Regions from separate parts of the Homo sapiens genome. Here region 1 is linked to region 2. Evidence: fine-mapped expression QTL. A gene starts in region 2. The other region holds a variant in brackets. All regions are shown on one strand. Distances are between the middles of the regions. Region 1 overlaps OPN3 (opsin 3). Region 2 holds the start of OPN3 (opsin 3).

The links. PIP is the estimated chance that this variant, and not a neighbour inherited with it, causes the effect.
Region 1: its variant is the best candidate, but not a certain one, in a credible set for the expression of OPN3 in testis (GTEx, PIP 0.75).

Annotation. Positions count from the first base shown.
Region 1 is chr1:241,598,051-241,603,430 of GRCh38, forward strand. The region is part of intron 2 of OPN3 (opsin 3); the gene reads right to left. Among named protein-coding and RNA genes, the nearest start is that of CHML, 40 kb to the right of the region's middle. The variant A/AT (reference allele first, on the strand shown) is at 2,304.
Region 2 is chr1:241,638,081-241,643,460 of GRCh38, forward strand. It overlaps OPN3 (opsin 3), which reads right to left and starts at 2,289. Exons shown (of 4, transcript NM_014322.3): 1 at 1,802-2,289. The coding sequence starts at 2,174. CHML (CHM like Rab escort protein) reads right to left here and starts at 2,289. Exons shown (of 2, transcript NM_001381853.1): 1 at 1,802-2,289. RefSeq lists enhancers at 1,416-1,986, 1,987-2,556 and silencers at 1,659-1,708, 2,039-2,618.

The sequences.
Region 1 (5,380 bases), 40 kb before region 2:
TTTGTTGTTTTTATAACAGATATTCAGACACCATTCTTGGCCCCACCTAAATGGAAAGAGAACTGAATGGCACCTTGGCAGGCTGACTTCTGATCCAAGACTCATAGCTGAGTCCAGCTTTAACCTTGCCGGGCCTCAGTCTCCCCACTTACAACATAGGGTGGTTGAGCTACAGAGCCTCCTACATCCTTCAGTGTTTTTTTTGACGTTCTCTTATTTACTTAATAAGAATAACATTATTTTGCCTAGATCTTCAAGTCTCTAAAAGACAGCCTGAGAGAGTCACGATAAAATGCAAAGAATTTCCCTGTGATCCTGGAAACTCTATAGAGTGTTAGTCCTCCAGTTCTCAAATCAGACTGCACACCCATGTCATGTCAGGTGTTCTGCATGATTAAGCCTGCAGCTGGCCTTGATGAGCACTTAATTCCCAAGTGAATTCTTACTGAAAACCAGCTTTTCAATTCACTGCTAATGACTGTAAAGTAGAATTTCAGGAGAAATTTGTTTGTGATTGGCTTCATTAGGGGATCACTTGCAGAGAACAGCACTTGGTAAAACAACTCCTTCCTCTAAAACCAGCCTGTCTACTCGCAGTCTGTTCCCATTAAAGGGATGGAGGAGTAATGATGTACAGCCTGAAAGTTCTTTGAGTTTCTTGAATATGTTTCTTTTTGCTGTTTCTCCTATTATTATATATGTGTCATAATAATACACAGGCAAAGAATATTTCTGCACACCAAAAATGTGTTCCTAAATCAAAATAGTTCTCTCTAAACATTGTAATAAGTTATATGAATTATACTACAAAAATACAAATACTCTATATATTGATTTTTTAAGTAGTTAGCATATAGTTAATACTTAGTATTGATTACTTTATGCCTGGAAATTTACTGCATTTCAATGAACTCTAAGTGTACCTTTTGGTTCTAGCATTATCATAAAAATTAAGAGAAAGAATTTCCAAAGAAATCATTTAGAACATGTGCTTAGATTATTTAGAAATATATTTTAATTAAAATTCTCAAATTACTGATATCCAAAATTATATTTAAGAAATTATATTCTTATCAAAATCATGTATTCAGATTAGCAAAGAATAGAGAGAAATAGGAAAAATTTAAATCATTGATTTTTTTAGGGTAGAGAGACTATGTGCAGGGAAAAGTGGGTATTAAATTTCTGGTATTAGTTTGGTGCAAAAGTAATTGTGGTTTTTGCCATTAAAGGTAAACCTTTGAAGGTCACCTTATTTAAAGGTAAATAATATTCCTTTACCACTATGCCAATTACTTTAAAAAATCAATATATAAAGTATTTGTATTTTTGTAGTAAAATTCATATAACTTATTACAATGTTCAGAGATAACTATTTTTATTTAGGAACATATTTTTGGTGTGCAGAAAGGTAAATAATTTACCTTTAAAAAAGGTTACCTTTAAAGGTTTACCTTTAACGGCAAAAACCGCAATTACTTTTGCACCAACCGAATACTACTATTCTGTGTGTGCAATTCTATTTTAAAAGAAACTGTTTTATTTAATGGGATAGAATATTTTTCTATTTTCAAAACATCATTTTGGGGGAGCTTCCCTAGTTTATAGGAAGGCTGTGGGGTTTTGATAAAAGGTCTAGATTTGGAATTAGAAGATCTAAGTTTATATCCCAGATTAACCACTTTTGCTCGCAGTGTGATATTGAGCAAGTCAACAACCTCCTCTAAGAGTAAACAAGAAAGGAGGTAAAGCAAAAAAACCTATGAGAATTAACAGAACTTGAGTTCCATTTCCACACGTATGACTTTGTGGGGTTGTTTTTGAGGTTAAATACTTATTTATATTTGAACTAGATATGAGACTAACACACTTGTATGTATATGTACATTTATGATACTATAGGATATCTGGAATCATTATTGACTCTTCAGAGTTTCAATTAACAAGCAACATAACCACATCTCAGTTATCTGCCTCCCAAACCTCCAGTATTTAGGTCCAATCGTTTTATCTGTACCATTTTCTGGGCAGGTCAGTCTTTATCCCCTCTCGCCATTTATCAAAGGAGAACACTCATTTATCCATCTTGGAATTACATGCATGCTGGGGAAATTAATTTAAATAAATGTTTGTCTATACATCCCCAGTTCCTCTTTGGGATAAGGAGAAGATATTGACTAATGTTTTAGATTATTTGGGTTTATATATGTGAAGTTTTCATGATTATTTTTTATTTATCTTTTTCAGGCCTCTTTCTTTCATTACTTTCTATTCCTTCATTCTGCTCATTAAATATTTTCCAA[A/AT]TAAAAAACTCGATTTCATGTCTTACCCTCTTTATTCAATCATTTGAGGATAGTTTTCAAAATTGCTATGGATGAAGCAATTTTGAAATGATTGGCACAGGCACAAATTTGTCCTAAAGAATGAACCAGCTAAGACAAATTCTTCAGAATTCTCTATCAGATTGTTCTCTGGCTGTATAAATGGCTGGTGCCTAGTGCTCCTTAATCCAAGACATCTGTAGATTTTCAAAGAATTTCACTGTGAATCTTCATTCTCAAGTGTGTAGCTATGTCTCCATCGTTGTTATGAGTCACCTCTCTCTGAATAAGGAAACGGAGGCAAATTACTTGCAGTGAGCTCTCTGTTTAGATAGCAGCTAAAGTCAAATCTCTTCACACTTTCACCCCTTCTCCTGTCTTCCCCTTTCTATGCCCTCTGCTTGTAACTCATTCCAAAAATAGTCACTGATTACCTACTACATGCAGACACTGTTCCAGTCACAGGTGAGAAAATACATAAGACCCAGTCTCTGCTCTTGAGGAATTCACTATTTGGTGAGGATGATGCACACTGAGCGGGTAGAAGCCATGAGGGAGGTAAACAGGGAGGATATGGTAGTACACAGGATGGGAAACTGGTTCTGAGGGTGGGTTAGAGCAAGAAAATCGTGCTGTTAGCCTTGTGAGGGAAGGAGGAATTAGTCAAGTAAGGAGGAGAGACAGAATGTTCCAGAGAAAGAAAGTGTGCTAAGACAAGAGGCAAAATAAAAAGTCAGTTTCTGAAAACAAGAAATATTACCATTGGCCGCATCATGAGGTGGCAAGAAGACAGGAGTGTCAAGAAATGAGGCTGGACAGGTAGACAGGAGATGCCATACAGGACCTGCCGGCCACACCCAGGGGCTTTATTTTGAGTCACAAAGACAGTGGAACTTCTGAAGGTAATACTTGAGAACAACTACTCTGATGGCAGTGTGTAAAGAATGGAATAGAGGAAAGCAAAAATTTTAAAAAGGAGAACTAAGTTTTTTTTTTTTAACTGAGTCTGTGGCAGTGGGAGAGGAAAAAATGGATATACCAAAAAATATAGGGCTAGGAGCAGTGGCTCACACCTGTAATCCTAGCACTTTGGGAGGCCAAGGCGGGCAGATCATGAGGTCAGGAGTTCGAAACCAGCCTGGCCAACATGGTGAAACCCCATCTCTACTAAAAATATTTTAAAAATTAGCCAGGCATGGTGGTGGGCACCTGTAATCCCAGCTACTCAGGAGGCTGAGGCAGGAGAATTGCTTGAACCTGTGAGGCGGAGGTTGCAGTGAGCCGAGATTCTGCCATTGCACTCCAGCCTGGGCAATAAGAGTAAAACTTCGTCTCAAAAAACAAAACAAAACAAAACAAACAAACAAACAGAAACAAAACGAAACAAAAAAACATGTAAGTGGCATGGATAAGAACTGATCAATAGTTGTGTGTTGGGGGAGACATGGATGACACATAGTCAAAGATTACTCCCTAATTTCTGGTCTTGGTATCTAGGAATGATGACTATTCAATGAGAAAGCAAATAGACGAGCAGAAGATTTTAGGGAAAATATGACAAATTAATCTTTATATTTGTTAAATTTGATGAGTCTGTGGACCATCCAAGTGGAGGTGTTCAAGAGGCAATTGACTACGAGGATCTGTTAGAGGCTGGAAGAAAGACCTGAACTGGAAATGGAGATGTTATCAAGCTTGTGTCAGAAGGAGAAATCCTGGCAGTATGAAAGACCACCCAAGGCCAGTGTGTAGCATGGGACAAGAGCTAAACATAGGATGCTGGGGAGGCCCAAAGAAGAGAAGCCCTTGGAAGAGATAAGAAGATGGCGCCAGAGAGTCAGCAACAAAGACAGCAGAGAAAGGCGCCCTAGAATCGATGGCAGGAGACCACCACAAGAAAGTAGAAGTTGGCAATAGTCTCAAACGCTGAGGATGCTAGAAAGGAATAAAAATGTGTCCATGGGATCACATATCTGGGAGCTCATCAATGACCTGAAATGAGGGCTGTATTAGTGGCAGTGCGGTAGAGGAAGGAGTCACAAGTTTGCCTTAAGTTGAGGAATGAATGCTAGATAAACTTACTAAACTACCAACTCCCTGAACTACAACAGAAATGTATTTCTCACAGTTCTGGAGGCTGGGAAGTCCCAGGTAGAGTAGCTGGCAAGGTAGGTATCATTCTGAGGCCTCCTCTCTTGACTGTTATCTCACTGTGTGCTTCCATGTTCTCTTATTTATGCACTCGTGGGAAGACAGAAAGAGAGACAGAGAGAGAGAGATAGAGATAGAGAGAGAGAGAGAAAGAGCAAGCTTTCTGGTGTCTCTTCTTACAAGGACACTAATCCCCTAATCCCATCAGACCAGAGCCCCATCCTCATGACCTCCTCTGACCCTAATTACCTCCCAAGGCCCCATCCCCAAATACTGTCACATCGGTGGTTAGAGATTCCACGTAGGAATCTGAGAGGGACACAAACATTCAGTCTATAACAGCAAGAAATTGGCATATTTGATATGCTCAATAAATATCAGGTAAATGAATGCTTAGTGAGTGACATTGTGGCACCAAGAGTCACCAATGGTTCTTTGAGTTAGCAGTGACAAAATGGAGAAAAATAAAGTGATAGCTAGAGGGAGCTGAGAGTAGATTGTGATTAAAAACAAAATAGCCTGGTAATATGCTAAAGGGAAAGGGCCAGTGGTAAGGGAGAGTGTGAAGATACAAGGGAAAGAGAAAATTATTAAGAAGTGTCTCTGGGGCATGGAAGGGGGTGGGGGAGCAATCAGAATACAGAATCGAGTTGGTCCTGGGAGACCTCTCCTGTCGCCCTGTAACTGAAGAGAGAGTCCTAAGAATCAGTGGTTTGTGTAAAGAGAGGTAAGGAGTCAAAGGAACCCTTGATAATGGCTTTGTTTGGTCCGATAAATCAGAAGCAGACTTACTTGATAAGAATGAGAGGAGACAGTAGGGTGAGAAATTAAAATGAGAAATGAGTCTGTGTAATAGTCACAGTGTGGAGACAGTAGACCACACATACAGGGATAGAAAGGTTGGTAGA
Region 2 (5,380 bases):
CTAACTTGCCCCCCAGGGCTTAAGTCTCGGAATCTCTTATCTCAGGGTTTCCACCTCTACATTAAAAACAGGGAGAAAGTCATGGTTGAAAGCACTAAATGCCCTGAAAAATAGGGCAGCCCTCAGGCAAAAATCTAAGTGAACTTAGAAAATCACTGGGCTGGGACCCTAGGAGGGATGGTGAAGAAGAAAAACAGGAAGGGAGAAGTGACCAGGAGACACAGGAGGGTGGGATCAGCAGAGGAAAGAGGTGAGGAAGAGGGTGGATGACAGCTAGCACTTATAAAGAACTCAGTACACCCTTGTGTTCAAACTCCCGGGCACGAAAACAGAATTTTCCAGCACAGAAAAGGCACTTCAAGGAAAAAAGAACTTTGATGTCTGTGAACAAACACCTGTTGACTACCCTGGAGAACACTACTGATGATACTTTAGGCTTGGGCTTGAATAACCTTCTTAGCATTGCCGAAGAAACTGCCTGATAGGTATTTTACAATTAATATAAGGAGTGTAATCCCATAGTCGTCCATACCACAGCCTACATACACTTGCAGTCCCCTCCCTAAATTTCAAATGTTTGTTCAAATGAAATTATCAGATTAAAGCTTATGAGGGGCGGGGAGGAAAATATTATAACCTCTGAAGCAATCAAATAAAATCTATTTTCTTATTTCCTTCAAAACGCCAAAAAATGAATCATTACAAATATAATATTTGGGTTTGTCATAGCATAGAGGTTACTGAATAAGAAAATATTTTTGATAATTCTACAAAGATTTTTGTTCTCCCAAACCTACCAAGATTAAAGCAATAAAGTATCAATGGATTTCAGGATTTAAAAAAGGAACTTTAAGCCTTGAGAAATACACATTTCTATTTCAAATCTCCCTACAAATGAAATTCCTGAGGCACACAAAAAAATAATTTCCTTTCTACGCTTCCTTCAATGATTTGCTGAGTTGTTGATCATCCTTCAAAACATCATGTCTCAGTGAAACTTAAATCTTCCATAATAAGAGTACTGTCGAAATACATCTTCAACAATGAAGTTCTACTTTAATGAAATCTACCGATTGCAGAGCTAATTACAGTATTTGTTCACCTGAGATGGTATTGGCTGAGCCATTTGTAATCTCACCCAAGATTCTGGTGTGCTGGAACCCATCTATAAGACGGAAAATAGTAAAAACAGCTTACAGGGCACATGCCAATTTGCATTCTGAGGACCTGAATGAAACTGTCTCATTCCCTAGAAAGCATTCAAAGGTTTACAAGTACTAATGAGAATTTTTTTTTACACATTGTTATTTTGGTTTTCTACTCTCATTTTAGGAAACAAATAGTAGTACATGAATCTAATCTCATCACTCCCTCCAACTTTCACGAGTTAATCACTTTTTTTCTTGAATCTCTTGACTCTACAGGCCCTCGTCTCTTTCCTCAAAGTGTAAAAAGCCGTGGTTTCGTGCCTTGTTGAGTGATCTTAGGAGGTAAAAACAAATAAGAAAGGAGGCGGGCCGGGGTTTGGGGTCAACGTGGGGGGCAGATGAGAGACCACAGGAATGGAGTCCTGGACAGCGTGGGGCGGGAGGGGACGGAGGAAGAGGAAGGCACCCGCCATGCGGCTGGGGTCGGGCAGCGTTGAGGAGGCGAGCGGGGAGCGGGGCGGTGTAGGGCGGGGGGCGCGGGGCCGAGCGGGAAGCGGTGCGGGGCGGGCTGGGGGGCGGACGCACGGAGCGGGCAGCGGGGTGGGGAGTGGAAGTTTGCAGAGGGGAGGCTGCCTTCTCCCAGTCCAACTCACCGAAGAGGCTGCCGCTAAACCCGTCCCACACGCAGCCCACGGTGTCCCACACCCAGCCGTTCCTCAGGCAGGACACGAAGGTAAAGGTGACCCCGAAGAGGGACACCAGCAGGTCGCTGAGGCTGATGTTGACCAGGAGGAGGTGAGTGGGAGTGCGGAGCCGCTGGAACTTGTAGTAGAGGACGAGCACCAGCAGGTTGTTGCCGACGCCCAGCAGCCCAATGGAGCCCAGCAGCAGCGCCAGGCGCTCGTAGGTGCCGGGGCTGAAGAGGGGCGCGGGGCTCAGTGTCCCCGCCGGCGCCGGCCCCTCAGCGCCCGCGGCCCCGCCGCCGTCCCAGTAGCCGTGGCCGCCGCTGCGGTTCCCCGAGTACATGGCCCGGCGCCGGCGCGCCTGGCGGGCGGAGGCGCTCAGCTTGCGGCGGGGCTCGCGGCGCGCTCCGCACTGGGTGGGGTTGGGGCTCCGCCGCCTGCTCTAGCCATTGTGCACTGAGGGGCCCGCGCTACCGCGCGCCGGGCCCGCCCTCTTCCCGCCCCTTCCGCCCGGCGCACCCCCCGTGGCCCCGCCCCTCCCCGCGGCCTGTCCTCGTCGCTCCGCTGCTCCCGGCGCGTCCTCTTAGCCCCGCCCCCCCGCGGGCGCGTCCTCGCGGCTAGCTCGCCCCGCCCCCACTGGCTGGGCACCTTCCGCTGGTCGGCGTGGACGCGCGTCGCGGGATAGCCTGGGGGCCAGGGCCGCAGGGTAGCCTCGATGGCTCTTCACACCCCCACCTCCCTGCACCCACCTTGAAAGCTTCGTGTCCACTCACCCATTCATGCACTCACTTATACATTCATTTATTCCTAAGTATTTATGAGCGCCTGCGCCCACCACGTGCTGGCAAGAATTGGGTTTCTCCCCTTCCTGGGAAGCTGTAATAACCCACAACCAGCCTACGAAGCCCATCCCGCGTCATACACTCAATGTAAACAAAAGCAAAGAAAACATTGAAGAGCTCGGGGTAGTCTTACCGGAAAACTGAGAAGAAAAACAACAAATTGATAGACAGGTGCCTGCCTAACTACCTGACTGCTAGAGGACACATGTCCCAGGGCTGATACAAGAGCCTGCCACCCTTGGAGAGTCTGGGATGAAAACTCTCTGAAAATGGCATTCCAATGGAACTGACTTTAAGCCCTGGGCTGGACCCCAAGGCCTTCCAATACCGTCCTTCCTGTGCTTGAAAGCGTGGGTAGATCTTTCCGGTCACTGAGGCCTGCTAAAGTCCTTCACAGGCAGTGAAAGATTCAACCTAAATCTAGCAGGTATAGGAGGCAGGTGCTATATTTAGAACAGCACACATTTCCCATTGGGCCTCTTCTCCTGTAGTGATGAGAATATAGTACAAGTCAAATATAGGTTGTGAACGTCATCACACTCTGCAAGAGCTGCTTCTGCCTTTGTGGTTGCACAATCCCTAAGGAGGCCCTACAAGAAGATCACAGTCCCCAGCCACACCTGCAGCCTGTCCTGGACACTGGTGACGAACACAGGGTTTGTGCAAGCTAAAGAAACTGCTCTCCATACGGGCGTGCCTCACCTCTGTTTGAAAGATCAGTAGGGAATGACTAGCTTGGATCAATCCACATTCTGAATTCCCTGGAGAGAGGATCTAATAGGCTGGCAGCAGCTCTCCACCCTGGTGCACTGAGCAATAGCTAAGGGGCAGTGTGCTCTGCCTTTGACACCTTGATTTTCCTTCAAGGCTTCTGCTCTGGACTCGCCATCTGTGAGACTTCCTACCCACCCACCCCTTAAAAAACACACACACACTTTTAATTGTTAATTTTAGATTTGTACAACCACTGAACAAAACATAACTATTTAACAAGTTCTATATGTTTAATGTCGAAAGTGTTTTCTGTGTCTAGTCTACAGTAAGTTCTCAATAAATAGTAATTTGAATGAATGAATAAAGAACTCGCTATATTTTTTCCTATTCATTCTTCATTGCTGAGTCATTGCCCTTATAAAGCTCACATTCCAGTCGTGTTGGGAGAACAAACAAAAATTAGATAAATACGTAGGGTGTCAGCCACTGACAAATGCCATGAAGAAATAGGGGTCAGGCGTGGTGGCTCATTCCTGTAACCCCAGCACTTTGGGAGGCCGAGGCAGTAGGATTTCTTAAGCCCAGGAGTTCAAGACCAGCCTGGGCAACAAAGTGAGAACTGCCCCCTAACTCTTCAAAAAATAGAAAATTAGCCAGGCAAGATGGTACATGTCTGTGGTCCCAGCTACTCAGGAGGTTGAGCCAGGAGCTATGGGAGATGGGGCAAGGAGTTTGTAAGAGTTAAAGAAAGAGGAAAGAAACACTAATAGCAGCTCAACAGTCAGACAGTGTTATTTGGAAGAATAAACCTAAGAGGGGCTTCTGGCCGATTTCGGTCAGGAGCACTCTCTTACAGACTAAGAGTATTTAAGGATTTTAGAGTGAGAGAGCTTATCACAGGCGTGGAATGTTTCTGTTTGGAGAAGAAGTTTATTGCCAAGTTGGAATGTCTCTGTCGGAGGGGAGGTTATCTCGGGGCTCGCATGTCTCTGGTCAGGGAGGGGTTTATCTTAGGGTTGGAATGTTTCTGGTCGGAGATGTCATTTGTGGTGTATGGTCATGCTGACCTTAGCCATTAGGCTGATGCTGTTTGGATTTAGGTGGTTTTTGATCAAGGGGAACTTTAAAATGGCAGTGCTTGTCCATGATGGTGATGCACCTGCTCTGTCAAGGTTGTTATTTAGACAAGGTGGTTATGGGCAGGAGTACTGTATTGGTATGTTGGAGGAACAATAAGGAAGCAAGAATGAGAATCGGGAAATGCAGCCAGTCAGGTGGGTGTGCAGTGAATGGCCAGAATATGCAGGACCTTGGCCATTTCAATAAAAGGACTTTGGCTTTTACTCAATCAGAGTAAAGTCCAGGGCAATGCCTACTAGCAGTGAATGCAAAGGAGGAGTAAGAGGCCTTTGACAAATGCTTAAGCATTTTTGACACAGTAATTTTACAATACTATGAACCATTAAGGACATTTATTGAGCTTGACAGAAACAGGCAATGATAAGGATATATGTTTCTTTTTTAATTTTAGAATTATGTAATGACAGGATAATGGCAGAACACTACAATCTTTTATTAAAAAAAAAAACAAAAAACAAACAAATGAAAAACACCAGCATGATATAGTTTGGATGTTTGTCCCCACCCAAATCTCATGTTGAAATATAATCCCCAATATTAGAGGTGGGTCCTAGTGGTAGGTGTTTTGGTCATAGGGGGCGGATCCCTCATGAATGGCCTGGGCCATCCCCTTTGTGATAAGTGAGCTCTGGTCATCTAAAAGTGTGTGGCAACTCCGCCATCCCACTCTCTCTCTCTCTCTCTCCCTATCTGGTTGTCGCCATGTGAGATGCCTGCTCTCACTTTGCCTTCCACCATGAGTAAAAGCTCCCTGAGGCCTCCCCAGAAGCTGAGTAGATGCCAACACCATGCTTCCTGTACAGCCTGCAGAACTGTGAGCCAATTAAATCGCTTTTCTTTATAAATTACCCAG